4 linked regions of the Homo sapiens genome follow. The protein of the gene in region 1 purifies or fractionates together with the protein of each later gene. This does not show direct contact. Each region holds a gene or a part of one and is shown in the gene's direction. Other genes may lie near its edges. The genes, in order: PRKAB1, TRMT44, HEATR6 and CBR1.

Evidence for each region.
Region 2: the proteins of PRKAB1 (region 1) and TRMT44 purify together in Homo sapiens (affinity purification with mass spectrometry; 2 studies listed by BioGRID and IntAct, with this or other methods). This does not show direct contact.
Region 3: the proteins of PRKAB1 (region 1) and HEATR6 purify together in Homo sapiens (affinity purification with mass spectrometry; 2 studies listed by BioGRID and IntAct, with this or other methods). This does not show direct contact.
Region 4: the proteins of PRKAB1 (region 1) and CBR1 purify together in Homo sapiens (co-immunoprecipitation; 2 studies listed by BioGRID and IntAct, with this or other methods). This does not show direct contact.

What each region holds. Positions count from the first base shown.
Region 1 is NC_000012.12:119,678,112-119,682,142, forward strand, and holds the end of PRKAB1 (5'-AMP-activated protein kinase subunit beta-1), read left to right. Parts: intron 1-1,821; coding exon 1,822-1,890; intron 1,891-2,136; coding exon 2,137-2,214; 3' UTR 2,215-3,508; downstream 3,509-4,031. UniProt on the Homo sapiens protein: Non-catalytic subunit of AMP-activated protein kinase (AMPK), an energy sensor protein kinase that plays a key role in regulating cellular energy metabolism.
Region 2 is NC_000004.12:8,443,777-8,450,776, forward strand, and holds part of TRMT44 (probable tRNA (uracil-O(2)-)-methyltransferase), read left to right. Parts: intron 1-2,699; coding exon 2,700-2,814; intron 2,815-5,892; coding exon 5,893-6,112; intron 6,113-7,000. UniProt on the Homo sapiens protein: Probable adenosyl-L-methionine (AdoMet)-dependent tRNA (uracil-O(2)-)-methyltransferase.
Region 3 is NC_000017.11:60,054,895-60,061,938, reverse strand, and holds part of HEATR6 (HEAT repeat-containing protein 6), read left to right. Parts: intron 1-1,842; coding exon 1,843-2,049; intron 2,050-2,417; coding exon 2,418-2,517; intron 2,518-4,535; coding exon 4,536-4,891; intron 4,892-5,701; coding exon 5,702-5,824; intron 5,825-6,337; coding exon 6,338-6,424; intron 6,425-7,044. UniProt on the Homo sapiens protein: Amplification-dependent oncogene.
Region 4 is NC_000021.9:36,065,204-36,073,037, forward strand, and holds the start of CBR1 (carbonyl reductase [NADPH] 1), read left to right. Parts: upstream 1-4,820; 5' UTR 4,821-4,912; coding exon 4,913-5,201; exon of another isoform or gene 5,202-5,282; intron 5,283-5,746; coding exon 5,747-5,854; intron 5,855-6,611; coding exon of another isoform or gene 6,612-6,736; exon of another isoform or gene 6,737-7,242; coding exon 7,243-7,679; 3' UTR 7,680-7,834. UniProt on the Homo sapiens protein: NADPH-dependent reductase with broad substrate specificity. Catalyzes the reduction of a wide variety of carbonyl compounds including quinones, prostaglandins, menadione, plus various xenobiotics.

The sequences.
Region 1 (4,031 bases):
GATGGAGACTGCTGCTGGGAATAGACAAGCTGAGAGTGGCCCAGGGGGCTGGGAATATGAGAATGTCAGGACCCCTCTGTCCAAGGTAGCACTAAGCTCTAATGTAAACTGTGGTTACAGTTGTCACTACTAAAGGGTTAACATTTATTTTGCCCCAAACTAATCTTAAGTGCTTTTCGTGTATTCTTATTCAAGCCTCACAACAACCATGTGAAGTAGGTGCAATTATTACCCCCATTTTAGGGATGGGGAAACTGAGGCACAGAGCAGTAGGGAGAACACTTAAAATCTACTGTCTTAGAGATTTTCAAGAATACATTGTTACTAATAGTCACCGTGTTGTACAGTGGATCTCTTGAACGTATTCCTCCTGTCTAACTGAAATGTTGTATTCTTTGACCAGCATCTCCCTACCCCCACCACTCCTAGCCGCTGGCAACCACCACTCTACTCTCTACTTCTGTGAGTTCGACTTTCTTGGATTCCACATAAGTGACATCACATGGGATTTGTCTTTCTGTGCCTGGCTCATTTCACTTAATGTCCTCCAGGTTTATCCATGCTGTCACAGATGACAAGATTCCTTTTGTAAGGCTCAGCAGCACTGCATTGTGTATCAGTACCTCATTTCTTTATCCATTCATCCATTGTGGACACCTACGTTGATTCCACGTCTTGGCTATTATGAATAGAGCTGCAGTGAACGTGGGAGTACAGATATCTCGACATGCTGATTTCATTTCCTTGGAGTATCTACCCTGTAGTGGGATTGCTAGACCATGTGGTAATTTTAGTTATAACTTTTTAGGAACCTTCATGCCATTTTCCATAATGGTTGTACTAATTTACATGCCCATCAGCAGTGCACTAAAAGTAGCTTTTAAGTGTTCTCACCACAAAAACATGGTAAGCATGTTCTGCGTGTGTTGATGAGCTTGATTTAGCCATTCCACAATGTGTCCATATTTCAAAACAACATATTGTACATGGTAAATATACATAATTTTATCTGTCAATCTTTGAAATTGATTAATTTTTTAAAAACCCCTCTTAGGCTCACACAGCAACTGGCTGAGCCAGCAGTCACATCAGGCTTGGCTGGTGCCAGATCCTTGGTAGTTGGTGCTCTCAGCAGCCACCCTGAATGGCCTCCCAGCGGGAGCTTGCTGAGTATTTGTTGACACAATGATTGGCCCAGCCTCTGGGATCCTAAGCCTACAGCAGTTGTTCTACACTTTTTTCCATTTGAATTGCATTTATAACAGTTGGGGGTATACAATGAAAAAATAAATCCCGATTTCTGGCTTCTCTTAAAACATAGGAAGGTGCGGCGGGCAGCTCTGAGTGCCAGCCCGGTGGCAGATTTTCCAGAGTAGTGGTGTCTTGCCCAGGTATCCGTTTCATTCTTCAGGTTCATTGAGTCTTACAGATACAAGTTTTGAATCCATTGCTCAGGAGCGTTTAGTGCAGATGGTCTCTTCCTGTGTTCTCTGAAAGTGCTGTTAATAGCTGCTTTCTTCCTGCCCCACCCTCCATAAGAGGACAGGGCCGTGGCCCACACTTGAAAGAGGCCGGGGTAAATGCCTGGCCAGAGACACACACCGATGCCTCCAGCAGGCATGCAGGGAGCTCCCTTCAGGTCAGAAGGCGTGACCTTCATCTCACCTGTCGTCTTGGACAAGCCCTTGCGCTGCCTGATTTGGGAAGAGAGGTCGGCCTGAGCGCTGCCTCCTGTCCTTTGATATCTGGCACTGGGAAGTAAAGGGGAGAATCTTGGTTTCCAAATCCCAAATGCTCACCGCTGCCTTTGTTCCCTCACAGTGTGATCCAGCTTTGCTTCCTGAGCCCAATCACGTCATGCTGAACCACCTATACGCGCTGTCTATCAAGGTAATGACATGTCTGTCCCCATGAGAGCTGTGTTGCCCAGTGTGTGCTCTGAGGACCCCCAGCAGTGGAATGACCTGGCGGGACTGACTTAAAGGGCAGCTTCCAGGGTCTGGCACAGGCCATCAGGCTCAGGTTCTGAAGCTGGCCCGGGAATTTGTGGTTTTATGAAGCCCTTAATGATTCTCATGTCCTCTGAGGCTTGAGCCCCTTAGTCCAGCCTTTGATCATTTCCACCTTGTTCCTTAGGATGGAGTGATGGTGCTCAGCGCAACCCACCGGTACAAGAAGAAGTACGTCACCACCTTGTTATACAAGCCCATATGAAGAGCTGGGGGCGGATGGTGGCCCAGGAGACAGCACACCACCAGGCTCCACACGTGCATGCTTTCCCCAAGAGGGAATGGACTGTACATTGCTCATTTCACACTCTTCAGAAGACATTTCATACCTGCCCTGGTCCTGCTTGAAGGTTTGTCCAGGCAGAGCAGCTCCTGCAGCGCCTCGGTCTGTGACAGTCCTCCTAGCACCCCCATGGCTTTGAGCCTCGGGGACTCATCAAGTCCAAGAAAAGAGGGAGGGGTGGCAGAGGATCTGCAGCCCTGGCCCCGCGGTGCATGAGGCTGGGTGCAGTTCTAAACCTACATTCTCGATTTTTCTTAAGCCAAAAATGAATGCTAACTCCTTTGCCAGTAAAATTCTGGGAAACAGGGACTGAGGCCACACATCATTTCCAGTCATCTGTGTGTTTTTAAGGCCAGCCACTTGTCCCTGTTGAGGCCTGGCTATGGAACTAAATACAGTGTTGGTCTTGCCTGTCCTTCAAAATCAACAACAGATTGTCTCTCGGCTCCAGGGAGGTGTCATTTCTATAGAAATTAGAAGCTTTCTGATTTCTAGATGAGGTTTTACAATTGTTTCTTACAGTCATGTGCACTAAGTACTCTTTTTGTAAGCAGAGGTGGCTGGCTCTGCAGCCTTAAGGCCATTTTTTAAGTCACCACGTCTAGAAGTCACATGAACTCTGCTCAGCAATAATCTGTTCTCAGAACAGACTTTTCAACCTGCTGCCGGATTTCTCCATTCAGCTGGATGATCCTCAGGACTGACCAGTTAGCTGGCAGGTTGTCCAGCTTTTTATTCCAGTCATAATAGGTGACAGTGTTAACCGTGAAAACTTGAGAGGCACTCTGCCCTCTTCCCTATAAAATCACACAGCGTGATTTTACAAGGTCCCGTGGCACCTTGCTCAGGACCTCTGCCCCTAGTTAGCAAGACTGCAGCAGTTGCTGTTGCTTATTCTGAAAGGAATGTAGAACTTGACAGCAGCCTTCTGAGTCTGGGTCAGGAAGATGTCCTTTGGACCAAAGCAGACTTCTTTATACGCAGCTCAGTTTCCCGGGAGTCGCCACAGATGTACCCACTAGCCCAGGTTGCTGTGAGTCAGCGGAAGCTCCCGTTATGCCCTTTGCTCCTGGTGGGAGAGGGAGGAGTGAGCTCCCTGGGTTCCAGTATTTACTTGGTATACCTGAGTTTGGGGGTACCCTTTTTTGTGACTTTTCAAAACAGTGAATTACTGTCACCTTGATGGACAAGTTTCAATAAAACTTTGTAAAAATAATTGGACATGTGCCTGGAGGAGCTCTGATTTTATTCAGTCCCTTGGAGAAGAGACTGGAACTCTTCGAGAGTTGCGTTTCAGTACCGTTCTTGTGGCTCTGAGCGGACAGGGCTACTCCAGCTGCCCAGGCCTGAGAACCAGTCCTGTGACTCACACCCATTCACACAGTTTGGAACCTTAAGGGACCCCTAAAACTGAGCCCCTCTGAACAGCTCAAGTCACAAGGGGAAGCTGAAGAGGGGTAACAGCAGAGGCTCCTGGCTTCGGCCAGTTGTTGGTGTCCCCAGGCCAGAGGGTTTGTTTCCTTTTGCTCCTAAACAAGCCCGGTGGGACAGCCTGGGATCGTGACCCTGGCGTGTGAGAGAGCAGGACGTTGTGGAGTCAGAGCTGTTTTCATCCACTAAAAGAGGCCGTGTCCCTCCTCCAAAAAGGTGGAAGGTTATGGGTGTTCCTTTAAGCCTTCTCAGGTATCAGGAAACATTTTAAATTTAGCAGAAAAGCATGCTAATGAGCTCTACCCACT
Region 2 (7,000 bases), on another chromosome or scaffold:
GGTGAAACCCCGTCTCTACTAAAAATACAAAAAATTAGCCAGGCGTAGTGGCAGGTGCCTGTAATCCCAGCTACTCAGGAGACTGAGGCAGAAGAATGACGTGAACCCGGTGAGTGGAGGTTGCAGTGAACCAAGATTGTGCCACTGCATTCCAGCCTGGGCAGCAGACGGGGACTCAGTCTAAAAAAAAAAAAAAGGAATGTGACTAAGAAATCTTAACTGTTAGTAGCAGGTGACAGGATGACATAGTGGTTAAGAACTTGACTTCTTTAGTTAAAGAACAGAATTCAGTTTGAGGCTATGTGGATTTGAGACAGATTACTTAATCTGTTGAACGCCTGGTTTTCTCATCTAGAACAGAGGTTTCAGTCGGGGCAGTTTTGATCCTCAGAAGTTTGTCATTCAAACATCACATGTTCTCACTTATTTATGGGGTTTAAAAATCAAAACAATGGAACTCGTGGACATAGAGAGTGGAAGGATGGTTACCAGAGGGTGGGAAGGGGAGTGGAGGGTTGGGGGAGAGGTGGGATGGTTAAAGTGTACAAAAAAAATAGAATATGAATAACACCTAGTATATGATAGTCTAACAGGGGGATTATAATGAATAATAACTTAATTGTACTTTTTTTTTTTTTTTGAGAGTAGTCTCGCTCTGTGGCCCAGGCTAGAGTGCAGTGGTGTGATTTCAGCTCACTGCAACCTCCGCCTCCTGGGTTCGAGCGATTCTCCTAACTTAGCCTCCCAAGCAGCTGGGATTACAGGCATGTGCCACGACGCCCAGCTAATTTTTGTATTTTTCGTAGAGATGGGGTTTCACCATGTTGGCCAGACTGGTCTCCTACTCCTGACCTCACGTGATCCGCCTGCCTTGGCCTCCCAAAGTGCCGGGGTTACGGGCGTGAGCCACCTCTCCCGGCCACTATTGTACATTTTTAAATAACGAAAAGAGTGTAATTGGATTGTTTGTAACACAAAGGATAAATGTTTGAGGGGATGGATGCCCCATTCTCCATGATGTGATTAGTTCACATTGCATGCCTGGATCAAAACATTTCATGTACCCTGTAAATATATATACCTGCTATGTACCCACAAAAATGAAAAATTTAAAAATTTTAAAAATCGAAATTTATCATTGTGTAGCGACAACAGTGACAGCAGATTTGGGGTTGCCACACTGGGCAGGGAGGGAGAGGATGCTGCTGGCATCTAGTGGGTAGGGGCCAGGGCTTCTTATAAACATGCTACAGTGCACGGGACAACTCCCAACAATAAGGAGTTATCCAGCCACACATGCCAGTGACACTGAGGCTAAGAAACCCTGATCCAGAGGATGGTGAAAATAATACTGGATGATAAAGTTGTGAGCTTTATTTTACTTTATTTATTTTTTGTATAAATAGGGTCTTACTATGTTTCTTAGTCTGGTCTCTAACTCCTGGTTTCAAGTGAGCCTCGCACCTTGGCCTTCCAAAGTGCTGGGACAACAGGCATGGGCCATCACGCCTGGTCCTGTTGCAGTTTTTAAATGAGATAATTCATGGAAAGAATGATGCATTGTGTCAGTCCTCTTCTCTCTGGTCTCACTCACAGTAAAAGCTGTACTTCTATGAACTGCAAGGCCCTATGTGACCTGGGTGGGCCCTGTTACCCTTTGATTTCACCTTCTACCACTTGTCACCTTGTCCACGCCACTCACCTCCATTCCCCATGCACCTGAGCACACGCCTGCCCTAGGGCCTTTGCAATTGCTGCTCCTGTGTCTGAAACACTCTTCTTCCAGGTGCCCCATGGCACACTCCCTGACCTCCTTCGGCTCTCTGCTCAAATGTCACCTAACTAGGGAGGACTTCCCTGGCCACCCTGTATTCCATAGCAGTAGACTCTGATTGTTAGAGTTTTCTCGGCCCCACACTGCTTGCTTTCCATCTGAATCCACTTAGCCCCTTCAGCCTCTGCTTCCTTTTGGCAGGTCTTGTTCTTTCATCTGCTGTGGAAGGTGAACCACAGTTGTGCATATTTGGCCTGTGAAGTGTATATTCCTCTTTAACAGAGTTTGCAATTTTTTTTTAATATCAAAGGTAAACACGATTGATTTTAGAGATAGAACTTTATACAACCAAACCTTAAGTATCCACACAAACTGACAGAATGCTGTAAATTTAGCTTAGGAATATGCCACTCTGCTTATATTTTAATGGGAAGGTGACTGTGAAGTCCGTACATGCAGCAAGGGCTCCACACAACATAAAGCGGTTGTTAGGAAGGCCTGGACTGATATCCGCTTTCCTGAACTGGCCTCTGATGGCTGAGCAGTGTTCTGTGCCTTGCTCACACTCGAAGATCATGGTCAGGCTGTGGCAGACACTCAGTTAGGGCAGAGGTCCCCTGTTTTCTCTGATTGTAGCTCTCAAGTTCCAATAGAGTCCACATTGGCTGGCTCTTCCCTCAGGTCCTGGCTCATGCATCTCTCAACAGATACTTGCAGAGAATGGCTGCTGTATGCCTGGCACATTCTAGGCTGTGGGCTGTAGCAGTGAATGAAAGGCAAAAGTTCCTCTCCTGGAGTGCCATTGTGAATAGAGTGCTGGGGGATTGAAAGCATCGTGCTTGACTCATCCCTATTTTTAATACTGCTTCTGATGAGACGGTAGCTAGGCAGTTGTAATTTGTCCTTCTTCTCTTTTTCTTTCCAGATGTCCTCAATGGAACCATAACGTTTTTGCCTTTGGAAGAAGATGATGAGGGGAACCTAAAGGTTAAGATGAGCAATGTGTATCAAATTCAGCTCAGTCATAGCAAAGAAGAATGGTAAGAGCTGGACAGTGGACTCCTAGTTTTATGGTTTCCATTGAGGATTTCTTTAGGTAGCCAAAGGATTCTGGGTTGCCAGGGCTTAAGGTCCTGTCTCTGAGGTGGTTATGGTTTGTAGGAATGCAGTTGCTAGCTTATGTGCCCAGGCCATGTTGCTCTTCCTGTTGGTGCCTGGCCTCGAGTCTGGGTGGTCACAGCCTGGCTGGGGTTTCTGATCTCTACCTTCCCTGTGGCTGTGATGATCAGCAGCCCTTAGCATTAGCTCTGAAGTCAAACTCAAATTTCTTTATTGTTATTGTTATTATTATTATTGAGACAGTCTTACACTGTTGCCCAGGCTGGAGTGCATTGGTGCCATCGCATTTCACTGCAACCTCTACCTCCTGCATTTAAGTGATTCTCGTGCCTCAGTCTGCACAGTACAGGCACCCACCACCACACCCGGCTAATTTTTGTATTTTCAGTAGAGACGGGGTTTCGCCATGTTGGCCAGGCTGGTATCAAACTCCTGACCTCAGGTGATCCACCTGCCTTGGCCTCCCAAAGTGCTGAGATTTCAGGCATGAGCCACCAAGCCCAGCCTATTTTGTTATTTTTTATGACTTAGTAATGGGGAATAGGTGATGGTTCCTTCTGTAGTAAGTATTCAGTGATACTTATTATAAAGTAGCGGTTTAATAAGCACCCTTAATTCCATATGGTATTTGGGCCTGTATAGAAAGTATAAAATTTAATTCATACCGTTTGGTATTTTTAAAACGAAAAAGTCAGAGGAGGGGTGAATTCATTCATGACTTGTCAGCTGATATTTTCCTGAGTGCCACATCCAAGCTGTACTTTCCGAAACAGTCTTGGGGATAATGTCTGAGTAACTGGAATGAGTTTGCCCGGGGCTTCCTAGAAAGCAGAGGGATGTGGCGAGAAGAGCATGGGCTTCCCACTAGCAGTGTGGTCTTGGGGATGTGCTCTACCTCCTGGCCCTCTGTCTACTCACCTTGAAATGGGTTTAATCATTCCTGAGCCTCTGAGGAGGTGGCAGGGCTGGGCCTCACATGGATCTGTTGCAGCCTTCGTGCTTGAAAGGGGTGCTCAGGCCCTGTAGCATGAAGCCCTTTGAGAACCATCCAGAGGTTGCCCCGAGTTGTCAGGGGATCCTGCCCTGAGGTCCCTTCCTGCTAGCATGCCCTTGTTGGAGAGTGAGGAGTGAGAGCAGACACTAGGAGAAGCCATGCTTACCTGTGCCAGGCACCTCTGTGCTCGGCGATGCTGAACTGTGTGCCCATTAGCCAGAAAGTGGTGCCTGTCTTGGGGGCAGTGGGCACCTGGTGCAGGGCGGGGTTGCAGGAGGTGCTTGGCATGTGCCTGCTGCGTTGGAGTGACTTTCATTGCTCTTTGACAAGCTACTGAGGACGTGGCTGCTGCTCCCATCTTCCCAGGGTGGCATTTCTAGTCGGCATCGGAGTGACGTTCACTGCTCTTTAACGAGCTACTGAGGACGTGGCTGCTGCCCCCACCTTCCCAGGGTGGCATTTCTAGTCATAGCCTCACCGGGCCGCTATTCCTTGCAGTCTCTGGGCACAGGTCACACTTCAGGGGCCAGATGTACTGCCTTCTGAGTTGAACACAAATGAGGGGCTCCACTGTCGATGTGCGTGCTTCTTCGCAGCTGGATTCATTTTCGGCAACATTTGTTGTGTGCCCAGCATGTGTTAGGGCTGGCACGCAGCGGGAAGTGAGTCTCCTGGGGCAGTGGAGAATATCTGCTCCCATACTAGGTGGTGTAGGGAGGAAAACTCAGCCAAGCAGGACTGTGTCCCCTCAATAGAAACGGCAGAGTGTGGCCGAGGTATGTGGGAAGGCCTCTGAGAAGGGACATGGAAGAGAGGCGGATGAAGGAGGAGGCCGTATGGACCTCTGGGGGACCCTGGGGAAGAGCATGAGGCCCAGGGAAGAGCGAGGAACGCCCCTTGGGCAGAATCTCTGCAGCGCGCAGGGGCCACCAAAGTTAGTGTCAGGCCCAGCAGGAACGCTTCTGGACTGAGCAGGACAGACCTCACAGTCCCGAGCAGGGAGCTGGGCCAGGGGAAAGGTTCAGACCCACTTTGGGGTTGACTCTCTGGAGAATCTTCTGGAAGTGACTTGTGTCCCTCTAATGCACCGTGGTGGCAGAAAACCTGGAAACCACAGCTCTCACCAGACGGACCACTTGCCATTGTCCCCTCCAGTGGGGCCATGCTGCTGCCGCGCCCTCAGCACACTTGTGAGGCCCTCCGGCTCTGCCCCGCTCACCCAGTGGCTGGGATCTGCTTGTTCTTAGGAATGTCCGTTGAATGTCACTTTTATCGTAGCTTTCTCTCATCTGCCCAGCAAACTTAATGCCCTCCCCTTCCCTGTGCTGCCCCAAACGCAGCCCTTGGACAGTGTATTGTTATCTGGGTTTGTATCTGTCCCGCCAGTCCTCCCAAGGATTGTGAGCTTTTCCTCATTTATTGAATGCATCCATGAACAGTGCCTGCTATGTGTCAGCACTGCTGGGACCTGGGGGCGGAGCAGTGAGCAAGACAGACAGAAGCCCCCCACTGTCATGAACCTTCTGATGGCAGAAGACATGTGAAAGACAAAATAAGCCGGCAAAATGCACAGCAGCCTTTATCTCTGTGGCTGAGCACTTCGCCTTCTGGCAAGTAGCTATTCGGTGAGCCAGTATACTCATTTGAGTTGCACCTGTGAAAATGGTAAAGAATAGAAATGTTAGGAAAATCCTTGGACGCTTAGACTCTGGCTCCTTGTGCATGAAGCAGCAGGAGAGAGGCCTTTATTTGTTCAGCCGCCTCAGGGGCTTCGCAGTGTGTAAATATATCCTTAACAAAGTTTGCAAGAAAAGAGGGATTCTCTGTGCTTTTTACATGTTTTTCTCTATTAGATGAAAGTTCTGTAACTAGTTCTAGTTCGTTTTATGTTTTTGGTAATATAGATGTCTTAGCTTCTGTTTTCTTCATTAGGTAAATAAATAGATAATTTTAAAATAAGAATTGAACATATCTGTGCTTATTCATATTTCTCTTATTTTTAAAGGTTCATATCTGTTTTAATTTTCTGTCCAGAAAGATGGCATTCAGATGGAATCGTGTATCCCAAACCCACGTGGCTTGGAGAAGAGTTGCTGGCCAAGTTGGCCAAGTGGTCTGTAGAGAACAAGAAGAGTGACTTTAAAAGCACCCTTTCCCTCATCTCCATTATGAAGTATAGCAAGGCTTACCAGGAACTTAAAGAGAAGTATAAGGAAATGGTTAAGGTAATTCTGGTGGAGAATATCTGATTTTTCCCCCTTCATGATTTTCTTTTCTTTTCTTTTCTTTTTTTTTTTTTTTTTTTTTTTTTGCGACAGTCTTGTTCTGTCACCCCCCCAAAAAAAAGGGCCAGAGTGAAGTGGTGTGATCTTGGCTCACTGCAACCTCTGCCTCCCGGGTTCAAGAGATTCTCCTGCCTCAGCCTCTGGACTAGCTGGGACTACAGGAACATGCCACCACGCCTGGCTAATTTTTTGTATTTTTATTAGAGATGAGGTTTCACCATGTTGCCCAGACTGGTCTTGGCCTCCCAAAGTGCTAAGATTACAGGTGTGAGCCACCGTGTCCAGCTCACCCTTAATTTACATGAGGTAAAATAATCAAACTCTTCCAGGTAAAATTGTTTTTCCTGTTGCAGGCTGTACTTTGACATACTTAGGGGTGCACACAACAAAAACATAGACAGATATATAATGGAAAAGGATTGATCTTTACTTGTATATTATTTGTTTTCAAGAGACCTAAAGGGAAATATTTAATTGAAAAGTAATGGAACCTTGAAAAAAAAAATGGCTAAATTACCATAATTCTTTGTATAAACTTAAATATATTTTAAGAAAATATGTGAAAAGTTAAAATACAAAAGAGCAGTTCCCAAAAGGAGATACATTTCATAATAACATGTGCTTAAACTTTCTATCTAAGATGTAAAAACAGTATAACAAGAAACATCTGTGTTGCGGGAAGTCAGGGACCCCGAATTGGGGGCGGGTTCCCCCAATACATCTGTGTGTTTATGCCCAGCTTAAGGCAGAAGGCATTGCTGGTAGAGTCAAAGCTACTTACTATTCTTCCTAGTTCCCATCTTCCTCCCCGTCCTAGGAGTAACCACA
Region 3 (7,044 bases), on another chromosome or scaffold:
TTCATTTCTTTCCATTCGATTTTTAATTTCATTCAGTTTGTGAGCTGTTGGAATTGTGATTTTTAATTGTCTTCTAAAGAAATGAAGGTTTAGCATAAGATCTATCTTGTTGAGTTCGGACGAGCCTCTAGTAGGGATTGGCCAGCTGTGGCCCGTAGGGCAAATCTGGCCCACCACCTGTTTTTGTACAGCCTGTTAGCTAAGAATGGTTTTTACACTTTTAAATGGTTTTAAAATAAAACAATAATATCTCGTGATATGTGAAAATTATATGGAATTCAGATTGCATTGTCCGTAAATCAAGTCTTTTTGGAACGCAACCACGTTTATTCCTTTACATGTCTATGCTACAATCACAGAGTTGGGTGGTTGTGACAGAAACTGGCCCACAAAGTCTAAAATATAAAATGTTTACTGCTGGCTCTTTACAGAAAAGTTTGCCAGCCCCTGATCTAAGTCCTTTTTGGATCAGCTGACTTGTGTTCATGCTCTCGCTCTCTCGTTTTTTCACACATATACACACGGTTTCCTAATACATTGTCAATTTCCCACCTTAGGGGATTATGCTTAATTCTGAAGTCTGATGCTACTGTACTTCAAATTTCTCTTCAGAGCAATAAGTCTAGATTTCTACGACTCCACTCTATAAAAGGCCTGCCTGGTGATTTATTACCTGGTTGTTTGGAGATAATATAATTGAAGGCTTTTGGGAAAACCTTTTTTGCTCCAAACTCAGATATGCTTCATATTGAGTAACTATTTAGGTTAGATTCTAGAATTGTAATGTTGGTTCCCTGCTTTTAAATTTTTTGACTGAAAATGTTAATTATCATTTTTGGATGAGCTGGCCTAAGAGAGTACAATATTATTCCGTATTAATAGTCCTATGCTTATTACCTATATCCCATTTTTGTAAAGTTGGGCTTTCTTTTCCTTTCTAATACTACAAAATCATCTGAGTACCAATTGAAAGTAATCTTTCAACCTTATAAAGAAAATCTTGGTGCCAGTGACACCTTTCCTAACAAATACAGCAGTCCATGACAAAGATGTTCTTTTTGTCCTTTCCATTCATAAGATTGTACTTAATGGTATTCCTTTTTTGAATTGTCAAATACTGTCACTGCAGGCAGTGTTATTTCCTGTACCTAAGACTGTTTCTGAAAGTTGGATCACTAATGATGTCTGCCAAGCAGTATGTACACAAAGTTCCTAAAGTCCTATTTAAGTTAACATTGAACACACATACTTCAGAGTGGAATATGAGGCATAATGTTCTCAGGAACTTTAATAGGAAACAGACTCTAGGCACATGTGTTTTTTCTACCCCATGGGCTGTTTAGTTCTAACTTTTCAGTTGGCATTCTGCTTGAATAAACCAGGCCTCTAATTCTTATTCTCATGCTTAGGATTTCAGATTTTTGTGCTATGGTGTAGCTTAGATTTATTTCTTACTGTAAAACACCTAACAGCAATGGGTTTCTAGATTTTTTTTTAGCCAGGTGTGGTGGCACACATGTAGTCCTAGCTACTTGGGAGGCTGACGTGGGAGGATTGCTTGAGCCCAGGAGTTTGAGGCTGCAGTGAGTTATGATTGCGCCACTGCACTGCAGCCTAGGTGACAGAGCGAGACTGTGTCTCTAAAATAAAAATAAAATAAAGATTTTTTTTTAGGTGTGGGACGCAAGTGGCCTAGTTTTTAGGAACTAACAGATAATCCCATTGCCTTTATTCTTCCAATTAAAATGATTGTAAATACTTTGAACATTAAATATGTATAGGAAGAAGGGAATCTGACTCCTAATTTTCAACTAATCAATGTGAATCATCCCGAAATTTCAGACACGTGCCTGTGCTCTGCAAGTTTTATCTGCCATCTTGGAAGGCTCAAAGCAGTTTCTTTCTGTTGCTGAAGATACCAGTGACCACAGAAGGGCTTTTACCCCCTTCTCCGTAATGATCGCTTGCAGCATTAGAGAGTTGCACAGATGTCTTTTGTTAGCTTTGGTGGCGGAGTCATCCTCACAGACCGTTACTCAGATAATTAAGGTAATGTACCAACTGTGGGTTCCAGAGCAGGCTTCTCTGTTTTAATTTTGTATACTGTTTTACATAGCTCAAAAGTAACTTGACTTAAGAATATAACTAAGTAATAGTTTTATTAAAAATACACTATTTGGAAGTCTGTACCTACTCGTCTGATCTTATCTATAATCTCTGTATGTCCCAATAAATGATTTGCTAAAAATACTTCTTTATCTTTAGTTGTACCAATGAGAATACAAGTGTTATTAAAAAAAAGGGGGGCTAATTTTTAGTTGTGTGAAAACTTTTCTTTTTTAATTAAATGCTGCAAAATTTGTTCTATGCTGTGGTTTAATCAAGCCTTTTGATGAGCTACTTTTTGTGTTTTACAGTGCCTTGCAAATTTAGTATCAAATGCACCTTATGATCGTCTAAAACTCAGCCTGCTGACCAAAGTCTGGAACCAGATAAAGCCTTATATTCGCCACAAAGGTTTGTAGTGGCTTAAAACTGATGGCTTCTTTGTATCAGTCAGATGCAGACTATTAGTAAAAATATACAGATATAGATATATGTATATATTCAAAGCATTTTTACAACTCTTAAGAGATCTCTGCTTATTCTTCTCAACTTTTCAGGGGTATAAGCTGTTGCAAGAATTGACCCCTCAAGTCCCAGTGGAAGTGAGCTAGAGGATTAATTGTAAAGTTTGCCTGTTTAATGCTCAGGGCAGTGACCAGAGTATCCCTTTAGAATTAAGATTGAGCCAGGTGCAAGCAGCCCCCCTGAGGAGTATGATTGTTTATATCCCTTACACATAGGTAGAGGATGGATGGATGGTTAGATAGACAGACAGACGGACAGATAGATATTATCTACTTTTTGGAAAGAAAAACTGGAATACAAAATTTAACTTCTTTATTGTTATTTCCTATGAAGTTCAGATAAAACCCCAGAACTTCAAATCTTTACTAAGTGCAGTCTTATTATTTCCTCCTACACATAATGTATTTGTGCTATAAACACTTGCCTTTTGTAGATTTGCCTTTCTTTTGTTTGCAAGCTTTCAGATCGGACCACATTCTGATGAGTTCAGTTTTTCAGGCAGAATTGTAACAAGGAAGGAATAGTGGATGTTTTCTGTGACATAGTGGGAAGAGCATGGGACCTGAAGTCAATCCAAGGGTCTGGATCCCACTCCCATTTTTGCCATCTCATGGCCATGACCCTCTCTGAACCCTAATTTCTTCCTAACAGCAAGAATTATAACTACATCATAAGATTTTTATGAGGCTCAAATGAGATAATGAGATGTAACTAAGTCCAGTTCACTACTTACACTAATATGTAAAAAAGGGACCCAGAAAGATAAGTCTTACCCTAAGGTTTCCCATCACATTCATGGCAGAAATAAGATGAGAACAACCCCTGCTCATTCCACTGTACCAACTTTTCATTATCTGCATCTTCAGCTGAGGAGAGTGCACCATGCCTCAAAGTTTCCTTTCAAGTATCTGACTTTATCCTCAAGTAACTTTTTTTCATTAAAATGTTCAAACCCTGAAATTCTTAGGTATGAGCCTAACAAAATATGTACAAGATCTATATGAAGAAAACTGTGAAACTCTGATCAAATAAAGAACTAAATGAATGGACAGAGATTCCATATTCCTGGATAGGAAGGCTCAATATTGTGAAGATGTTACTTCTTCCCAACTTGATCTATAGATTCAGTGCAGTCTCAATCAAAATTCCAGCAAGTTATTTTGCAGATATCAATGAACTGATTCTGAAATATATATGGATATGCAAAAGACCTGGAATAGCCAACACAATATTGATAGAGAAGAACAAAACTGAAGGACTGACATTCCCTGACCTCAAAATCTACTATAAAACTACAGTAATTAAGACAGTGTGATACTGGCCAAGGAAGAGACAAACAGATCAATGGAACAGAATAGAGAGCCCAGAAATAGACCCACATAAATATAGTCAACTGATCTACAACAAAGGAGCAGATACTTTTCAACAATTGGTGCTGGAACAGCTGGACATCACATGCAAAAAAAAAAATGAGTCTAGACACAGACCTTTTAGCTTTTTAAAAATATTTCTTGTTAAAATCCGGGGTTCATTCAAGGTACATGCATTGCATTTAGTTATTATGTCACTGTAGTCTTTTTAAATGTAGAGTCCCCCCACCCATCTTTTTTATATCAAACTGACTTAGGAAAGAATCCAACCCAATTGTCTTATAGAATGTGAACTCTAAGCTCTGTCACCAAAGATAACAAAATAAATCACATTCTCAATTTGTCAGATTGTTTCTTTATGGTGTTAACTTACTCTCCTGTCCCATGTATTTCCAAACTGGAAATGAGGTCTAGAAGTTTGATTAGATTCAGGTTACACAAGGAACTACTAATTTTTAATTGCCTGCTGGGATAACTACCATCTTTACAGTAGTTGTTGCCATGATGATAAGTTCTTACTGCTTCCTTTGACAGATGTTAATGTTCGTGTGTCAAGTCTCACACTCTTGGGAGCTATAGTGTCCACCCACGCACCTTTACCTGAAGTCCAACTACTTCTGCAACAGCCATGTTCTTCTGGACTCGGTAATAGCAATTCAGCAACCCCTCACCTCAGCCCTCCTGATTGGTGGAAGAAAGCCCCTGCAGGACCCTCTCTGGAAGAAACGTCAGTTAGCTCACCTAAGGGGTCTTCAGAGCCCTGCTGGCTCATTCGACTCTGCATTTCCATTGTCGTACTGCCCAAGGAGGATTCCTGTTCAGGTAGCGATGCTGGCTCTGCAGCAGGAAGCACCTACGAACCATCCCCCATGCGACTGGAGGCCTTACAGGTAGGAGATTTCATTTCCTCATCTCTGAAATGGAAGTAACCATTCCTCCTTCAGAGTGACTGTGAGGAGCGAGCAGGTAAAACCAAGCCATATGTCAATTGTGTTCGTGGGAATTGTATTTTAGGTATGGGTGGTGTATTGTTTTGTTGTTGTTTTGTTTTGGGGAGGTGTTCTTTGGTTGTAAAATAGCAGATTCATTCCTTTTTGTTCTTTGATTGCAAATTATTTTAGTCCCTTCAGGTATTATATGACAAGTGGATGTAATAGATTGTAGAATAATTCTGAGTGAAATTGTACAGTTAATTTTTGATTTTTGCAACTTAAATGTTTAATTCTCTATAAGCTTTTCCTTGGTCTTGTACCTGCTTAGAGTAACAAAATAATTGTTCCTTCAAAGGAAGAAAACAATCCTAGATAAAAGAGTTTACTTTTTCTATACAAATATGATCTGAGACTAGGCCTGGTCCTGAGGTCTGCTGCTGATTAACTGGGCAGCATGAAGCATGTCCTTTCATCTTGTCAGGCTTAGGTTCTTTAGTTGTAAAATTCAGTTAATACCTACTTTAAAGAATAGTTCCAAGACTTAAATGAGATTCTGTTAATGAAAAGCAATCATATACTAAAGCACCATAAAACTATGATACAGTTTATTGATGTTAGTCACAAAATAAAGATTATGGTTCTTAATTTCATTCAACAGATTTCAGCCCCTGTTAAATGTAAGCGATTTCTGAAATATTGTAACACTTTTCTGGATATTGCAGCCTTGCACTCAGGTCTTAGAGGGTTAATTCCATGCTCTCTTTGCAGGTATTGACTCTTCTGGCAAGGGGCTACTTTTCAATGACTCAAGCCTACTTGATGGAGCTTGGAGAGGTGATTTGCAAGTGCATGGGGGAAGCAGATCCATCCATTCAGCTTCATGGAGCAAAGGTAATTTTCATCAAAACCACAATGCTTTTTCCTTCTCTTCACTTTATATCCTTCCTTTTCTTCACTTTATATCCTTCCTTTTCTTCACTTTATATTCTTCTGCCACATGTCCTTCAATTCTGAGATTTCTTAAAGAGATTTCAGGTAAGGAGGACATGCATTCTTCTGTTTTCGGCTCTTACATATAAACCCCACGCATTGACTCAGTAACAAATTAATAAGATATAGCTGTTGATTTCAGTCCTTGAAAGAATGCCTCTGTTAACAGTGACTGAAAAAAGAAAGAAAATTAGTTGCAAATTATGTTTCCCCTTGATTTGAGGCGATCTCCAAACTCAAGTGAAGGTGTTACTAAAGTGAAGGTGTTACTAGAGTGAAGGTGTCACTCGAGTGAAGGTGTTACTCGAGTGGAGGTGTTACTAGAGTGAAGGTGTTACTAGAGTGAAGGTGTTACTCAAGTGAAGTCATTCATTAGTTCTGATGCTCCACTTCGGTAATTCTTTTTCTTGGCAGCTTCTGGAAGAACTGGGCACAGGCTTAATACAGCAGTATAAACCAGACTCCACTGCAGCACCTGATCAGAGAGCACCAGTCTTCTTGGTAAATAAATGTCAATTCATAGTTTTCTTTTATTAATGCTTCAGTTGCAGTTTTATTTTGAAGCTCAGTGATAAATGGAGTAGATGATATGGTTTCTTCCAGTGTCAAAAATTATGTTTTATAATCCAGGAAAACATGAAACTAGTATAAATTGGTTTTATTTTACATTTCAGTTTATTTGCAGTTTAGTTTGTGGTAGGCTTATGTATAACATATAACCAGCAATAGTAAAACTAATATTTCTTTTGCATAAAACCTAGTTTTTTATGCAAAAGAGGTTTATCTGGCTCACAGTTCTGCAGGCTGTACAAAAAGCATGGTGCCAGCATCTACCTCTGAGGAAGCCCCAGGAAGCTTTAAATCCTGGTGGAAGGCAAAGGGGGAGCAGGCATGTCATATGGCAAGAGAGTAAGCAAGAGGGAGATGCCAGGCTCTTTTAAACAACCAGCTCTCGTATGAGCTCATAGAGTGAGAGTTCACTCATTACCACAAGGACAGCACCAAGCCATTCAAGAGGGATCCACCCCCATGACCCAAACACTTCCTATTAGGCCCACCTCCAGTGTTAGAGGTCACATTTCAGCATGAGGTTTGAGGAGGCACACATCCAAACCATATCA
Region 4 (7,834 bases), on another chromosome or scaffold:
TCTCGGTCCCTTTGAGATGTATCTCCCACCCAGGAGTGTTTCTTGGCCAGGTGTGGTGGCTCACGCCTGTAATCCCAGCACTTTGGGAGGTGAAGGCAGGCGGATCACCTGAGGTCAGGAGTTCGAGACCAGCCTGGCCAACATGGCGAAACCCTTTGTCGACTAAAAATACAAAAAGTTAGCTGTGCGTGGTAGCACACGCTTGTAGTCCCAGCTACTCGAGAGGCTGAGGCAGGAGAATCTCTTGAAACTGGGAGGCAGAGATTGCAGTGAGCCGAGATCGCACCACTGTACTCCAGCCTGAGAGATAAGAGAGAAACTCCGTGTCAAAAAAAAAAAAAAAAGAAAGAATGTCTTTCTCAAGGACCTGAAAGCCATTCCTCTGAAATGTAATCATCAGAAATGATACGGCCTCTGTCTTTCAGTCTTTATAGTGGGAGAATAGAATCCCAACTTTGCTAATTGCCAGCTAACAGACACAGCTGGCCTAACCAACATTTCCACTGAGCAACCCTTGGCAATTTGTCATTTCCCTAACTCCTCCCACTTCCTGATCCTTCACTCTCCCTTTAAAAGGCACAGTCATCTCTGTACAAATGAAAGTTTGTTTCCACTGGACCCTCTTTCCTATTACAGGAGTTCATTATTGACTAAAATCTGTCCTTACCACCTTAGTGTCTGGCTTTATCTTTCACAGAATTCAGTAAATTGCTTGAGTTAAATAACTACTAAGCACCTAAGCCACAGATTGATTCCAGGTCTCAAAGTCCATGGTCTACCGCTGTAGAAAGGCTTATTGAATATCCTAAACAAGCATAAAATGCAAGAGGAACACAGCCAGTGTCAAGCAGATCCGTGAGGGTAACTAATCAAAGGAACGACCTGGAGAACCTCACAGTTCATAATTTAACAATATTATTTTCCAACATCTTTTCTTTTAATATATACCATGGAACTGTGTTTTGGGCTTTTTTGTTTTTGTTTTTGTTTTTAGATTCGGGGGTACATGTGCAGGTTTGTTACATCAGTGTATTGCCTGATGCTGAGGTTTGGGCATCTAATGCTCCCAAGTAGAAAACATAGTACCCAATAGTTCGTTTTTCAACCCTTACCCCCTCCCTCCCCCTTTTGGAATCCCCGGTGTTATTGTTACCATCTTTTGTGTCCCTGTGTACTCAAATGTTTAGCTCCCACTTATAAGGGAGAACATGCGTTATTTGGTTTTCTGTTTCTGCGTTTGCACAATAGCCTCCAGCTGCATCCATGTTGCTGCAAAGGAAATGATTCCATTCTTTTTTGTGGGAACTATGTTCTTTAGTTGCTTTAAACTAGTGGGTAGTAGTGCTCGTTTGGGCAGCACATATACTAAAACCGGAATGATACAGACAAGATTTAGCATGGTGCCTGGGCAAGGATGACATGCAAATTCATGAAGCGTTCCATTAAAAAAAAAACAGTGGGTAGTAAAGATATGAATTCATTCCACAGGTTAATTGATGTGATAAAATTCTTTATCTATATAGCATCCAATATAGTCTCAGACCTTTGATTCTCACAACTAAGGCATGTCTTCCAATTTAGCCAATAGCAGTAATAGCAGAGATCTGGAAACTCCATCTTTAAATTTCTGTTTTATTTCTTAAATTGTTCAGAATCCAGACAAGGTGCTACATATTGGAGGCTCTTCACACATACCACCAGAATCAAGACCCAGATGTAAGAGAGACAACAATACAAAACCATCCAAGTAGAGCTTAATTCACAGGCTTTAAATTATGCTTTTCAAAAACAAATTTTCAAAAAGTTTCCCATAGTCAAACCCATCAGACATTTATGATTCTTCCCCTATTTTTATGCTTATAAAAGAAAGCATTTTCCCCTACTGAAAATAAAACTTTTACTTTTGTTTTCTTTTAGTTGTTTTATGGATTCATTTATAAATCACTGTTTCTCTCTCTTCGGAAATTATTTAGTGTATGTTGTAAGGGATCTTTTTTCTTTCCAATCATTATGCCCTTTCCCCAGTGCTAATTTTGGAATAATTCTTTCCCTCACTAGTTGTTAAACCACCTTTATCATACAGTAAATTCTTGTTAATATATATTTTATATATTTTCCGGAGCATCCTGCCTAATGTACCTGTCAATTCTTATGTTGGTTCCAGTCCTAAAAAAATAAATCAGACTCAAACTCATGATTCATAGTCCTCATAGGATTTGCCTTTTGAAACAGCAGGACCCTCACCCTGTCCAAAGTTCCCTGTACACCATGTGCTATTGCTGACTGGCCCTCTTAATAAATTTAATCCATCCACTCTAACACTAACTCACACCAGCTACAGAAGACAGTAGCTAGTGCAGTGGAGAGAACCCAGCCAATGACAGACCCAACACGCACACACTGGGATAGGAAAGAAAATCCAAAACAGAGCTCTGAATTATCCTGAGTGGAAAAAAAAAAACCAAAAACAAAATACTACAAACTGTATGACTCCATCTATGTAACATTTTTGAAACAACAAACTTGTAGAAATGGTGAACAGATTAGTGGTTGCCATGAATTAGAGTTGGTTTGGGGAGTAACAGAGAGGTATGTTTGGTGATAAAAGTGCAACAGGAGGGCTCTTTGTGCTAATAGAAACATTTTCATTTAACTATAGTGGTGGATACACAAACCAACATTTGATAAAATTATATAGGACTAAATACATACACAAAGTACACATCAAACTGGGGAAATCTGAGTATGATTGGTGGACTGTTTTGTTGTCAATATCTTCACTGTGATGTTGTACTATACTTTTGCAATATGTTACTATTGAGTGAAACTGAGTAAAGGGTAAGGAATCTCTGTATTATTTCTTACAACTGCATGTGACTCTATAATTAGCTCGACAAAAATTTCAGTTGAAAAAAAGCAAGGGTCTTTCCTTGATTATTAACTTGTTTTAAAGCAACTGATTGGAAACCTACCTTGAAATTGCAATGTAATTGCAATCTATTTAAAGCAGTGGTGTTCAACAGACCTTTCTGCAAGGATGGAAATATCCTAAATCTGTACTGCCCAATACAGTGACCACTAACACATGCACATATTGAGCACTGGAGATGTGGCTAGTGCAACTAAAAAACTGAATTACAAATTTTGCTTAATTTGAATTTATGTTTAAATGGCCACCTGTGATAGTGGCAACCTATGGGACAGCACAGAAATGAAACTTGACCTTATTCCCAATTCCCTTGTAAGTAGGAAGGAGGAACACTCACTTTGAAACCATGCAATTGTCCCATAGGACAGATGTTTATGGTCTCTTTTTTTTTCCTTTTTTTTTTTTTTGAGAGGGAGTCACTCTGTTGCCCAGGCTGGAGTGCAGTGGCATGATCTCGGCTCGCTGCAACCTCCGCCTCTGGGGTTCAAGCAAGCAATTCTCTGCTTCAGCCTCCCAAGTAGCTGGGATTACAGGCGCCTGCCACCACACCCAGCTAATTTTTGTATTTTTTTTTTTTTTTTTTTTTTTTAGTAGAGATGGGGTTTCACCATCTTGGCCAGGCTGGTCTTGAACTCCTGACCTCATGATCCACCCACCTCAGCCTCCCAAAGTGCTGAGATTACAGGCGTGAGCCACCGCGCCAGGCCTGGTCTCTTTTGAATAAACAAATTGACCCTCCCAGTCTAAAAACTTGAGAAATTTACATTTGTCTTATCTGAGTTCCTTTCTCAGGGAACTAGCCATCAGTCCTCCCAGATAGCACCAAGGAACTGAAACTTATCGGATCACCACATCTGGAAAATCAGACACCAGACCCCTCACCTGCAACAATTGCCTGATGCCTGTTGACCCACTCCTCTTCATCTCTCCCTAACTCCTGCTATTTTCCCACATGCAGTTACATTTCTTCCCTGCTATATCCTAATTTTAATCAGTTGAGAAGATGGATTTGAGACTGATCTCTCCCCCCTAGGCTGTAGCACCCAAATAATGCCTTCTTCCCTGACAATAATGGGGTCTCAGTGACTGGCTTTCTGTGCTGTGAACCACCAGACCTAGACCAAACTCCTGGCATTTCTCTAACAATTTCCCACCACTGAACTAAGTTATAAATTCTGAGGATGGATCCCTGTTTCTTCATTTTAAGATGGGGATTAAAAGGTACATCCTAGAGTGTTATTGTCCGTGTAAAATAGGGCTGTGAAACCCCCTACACCTATGCACAGATAAACTGATGGCCCTGCAAATGCCCAGAGAAGTAACCTTATAAAGATTTAGTGAATGTTTCCCACCATTATTGGAAAATCTGGCTAAGTCAGTAGCTTTGTTTTCATATACTTAGGGGGAAAATCAACAAAAACTTGATGCCCTGTTATTTCCTTCCAGTTTCTTCTGCAACTCTAGCTCCAAAGACTGCAGTTCCTGCAGTATTTTTTTTTTTAGAACACCAGGAAAAAAAGAAAAAAAAACCATGCAAATGTACTATTTCTTCAAACACAACTAGGAATGATTGAACAGCTGGGAGAATATGAAGAAAACCCCTCAGAGAACCAAGGGCAAGCAGTGAGTTCAGATCTAGGCACATGGCCACTAGGAATGGTTCTTCACTGCCACGTGGGCAGCCAACAGCCAGTAGCTAGAGACCAGCCTCGGTCTTCGGCCTGCGGGTTCTGCAAAGTCAGGCTAGCTGGCTCTCCGCCTGCTCCGCACCCCGGCGAGGTTCCGGTGGGGAGGGGTAGGGATGGTTCAGCCCCGCCCCGCTAGGGCGGGGCCTGCGCCTGCGCGCTCAGCGGCCGGGCGTGTAACCCACGGGTGCGCGCCCACGACCGCCAGACTCGAGCAGTCTCTGGAACACGCTGCGGGGCTCCCGGGCCTGAGCCAGGTCTGTTCTCCACGCAGGTGTTCCGCGCGCCCCGTTCAGCCATGTCGTCCGGCATCCATGTAGCGCTGGTGACTGGAGGCAACAAGGGCATCGGCTTGGCCATCGTGCGCGACCTGTGCCGGCTGTTCTCGGGGGACGTGGTGCTCACGGCGCGGGACGTGACGCGGGGCCAGGCGGCCGTACAGCAGCTGCAGGCGGAGGGCCTGAGCCCGCGCTTCCACCAGCTGGACATCGACGATCTGCAGAGCATCCGCGCCCTGCGCGACTTCCTGCGCAAGGAGTACGGGGGCCTGGACGTGCTGGTCAACAACGCGGGCATCGCCTTCAAGGGTATGGGGAGGGGACGTGGCCTCCCCGAAGAAGAACCGATGCACTGGGGCTCCTGGCGTCTGCGGGGTCCATAACGCCTCCCTAGGGAGGAGAGGGAGGAGCTAGGAGATGCAGGGAGTGCAGAAACCTTGGAGAAAGTGAGAGTTTTCCAGCCAAAGGGAACTTTGTGTTTCCCTGGCTGGGACTCTTGGGGATCTTTTTCAGGTTTTCTGCAGTTTTTCTGAATTGAGCTTTAAGGCAACTGGATGGATTTTGAACTGATTTTAAAATAAACGACAAATTGCAAAAAGAAAAAATGGTTATGCCAAGATCCAGTGTGTGCACCCTTCATCCTCCTTCCCCCAATGGTGCCATCTTACAAAAATACTAGAACATGATCAAACCAGGAGATTGACATTGGCACAATACTGTAACCAGATACAGACTTACTTTAGGCAGAGGGCACTAAGTTTTTTTTTTTTTTTTTTTTTTTTTTTAGTATCATTGTATAGAATTTTACCCCATGGGTACAATGTATTAACTATGTTCTCTTTCTCTCCTAAAAGTTGCTGATCCCACACCCTTTCATATTCAAGCTGAAGTGACGATGAAAACAAATTTCTTTGGTACCCGAGATGTGTGCACAGAATTACTCCCTCTAATAAAACCCCAAGGTGAGTCTGATGGGAAACAGCGCACCTTCTCTTTGGGGCTTGATTTGGCCCCTGCTTGCCTGGGATTTCTCCTGCAGGCTCCTGCTTCCTCTCCATGCTGCACGTGCACTGACCTCTGTGCTTTTTCTCCTGCCAGCTGATATGTGCCATTTTGCCTCAGGACTTTGTCCTCACTTCTCCCACTCCCATGGCCATTCGTCCTCCCTGTCGCACTGGTCTTTGCACACCTGGCTGACTCTCATCCTTCAGGTCTTAGCTCAAACGTCTCCTGAGAGATGCTCTTTATTTGCTCCATTCCCCTCTGCGTGGGAGTCCATCCTGTACCCTTTCTCTGCTCTTTCAGAGAGATCTTATTCAGGCTGGTGGAGGCTTTACTACCACCAGTTCATTAGGCCCTTCTAATACCTGTCACCTGTCTGAAACACTCCTTAAGCTCCCAACCACATGGTTGTCTTGCTGCCTTTCCATCTCTTCCTGATGCCTTTCCCCACAATCTAAGATATTTCCAGAGGATCCCTATCCTTTTCCCTAAGTCGTTTGGGACACAGACCCCACCACCCACCCACCAGGATCCTGCAGGTCACCATGCCCCACCCCTCATAATCATTTACTAGGTCCTAGGAGTTGTGCCCACTGAGTTCCTCCTGAATCCGTCTCATTGCAGCTCTACAGCAGGCCCTCACCTGTCCCTCTGGACAATTGCAAACCCTCACAAGGCACCTCTGGTCTTGAGTCTTTTCCTCTTTTCCTTTCCCAGCATCCTGCGTACTGTCTGCATGGTCATGCCTCTCCCAAAATCCTTCAGGAGGAAAGTCCAAGCCCTTAGCATGGTTCACAGAGATGTCCATAATCTGCCGCTGCTTAACTCTGGGCCCATTTTAACTCCCCTTCAACGTGCTGAAGGTGCTGGACATGACTATCACATGTCTTTGGTTGTAAACTGCTGTGATAGTTACCCTAAGTAATGGGACAGGAGATGAACCCACCCATTAAATAACACAGCAATTAAGCAGCCACTTTTAGAAAAATTTAAATGTGTGGCTTCGAGTTGGGTACTTGCATGTACAGCTTACTCTCAGCTTTTATCCTGTTTCCCTGTCCTGTCGTCCTGTTAAGTTGTGCTACTTCTAAGGCTCTGGTTCACCAGGACCTCAAAGGGCAGCTCTTCCAAATCTCACCTGACTCTACTCAGCCAAAATTCGAAGGCAGGAATGAACTTCTTCATGCAACTACCACCACACTTTCTATGCGTATTCCTCTTAGAACTCATACCAGTAACTGTCTCTCATATGAAAATTTTCTGCTCCAAAATCCCTGCAAATTTGGCATTCACCTCTCTACGGGATTGTTGCACACCTTTCTACATAATGCTTTGTGGTGTATCTTAGGGAGAGTGGTGAACGTATCTAGCATCATGAGCGTCAGAGCCCTTAAAAGCTGCAGCCCAGAGCTGCAGCAGAAGTTCCGCAGTGAGACCATCACTGAGGAGGAGCTGGTGGGGCTCATGAACAAGTTTGTGGAGGATACAAAGAAGGGAGTGCACCAGAAGGAGGGCTGGCCCAGCAGCGCATACGGGGTGACGAAGATTGGCGTCACCGTTCTGTCCAGGATCCACGCCAGGAAACTGAGTGAGCAGAGGAAAGGGGACAAGATCCTCCTGAATGCCTGCTGCCCAGGGTGGGTGAGAACTGACATGGCGGGACCCAAGGCCACCAAGAGCCCAGAAGAAGGTGCAGAGACCCCTGTGTACTTGGCCCTTTTGCCCCCAGATGCTGAGGGTCCCCATGGACAATTTGTTTCAGAGAAGAGAGTTGAACAGTGGTGAGCTGGGCTCACAGCTCCATCCATGGGCCCCATTTTGTACCTTGTCCTGAGTTGGTCCAAAGGGCATTTACAATGTCATAAATATCCTTATATAAGAAAAAAAATGATCTCTTATCAATTAGCACTCACTAATGTACTACTAATTGAGCAACCTAC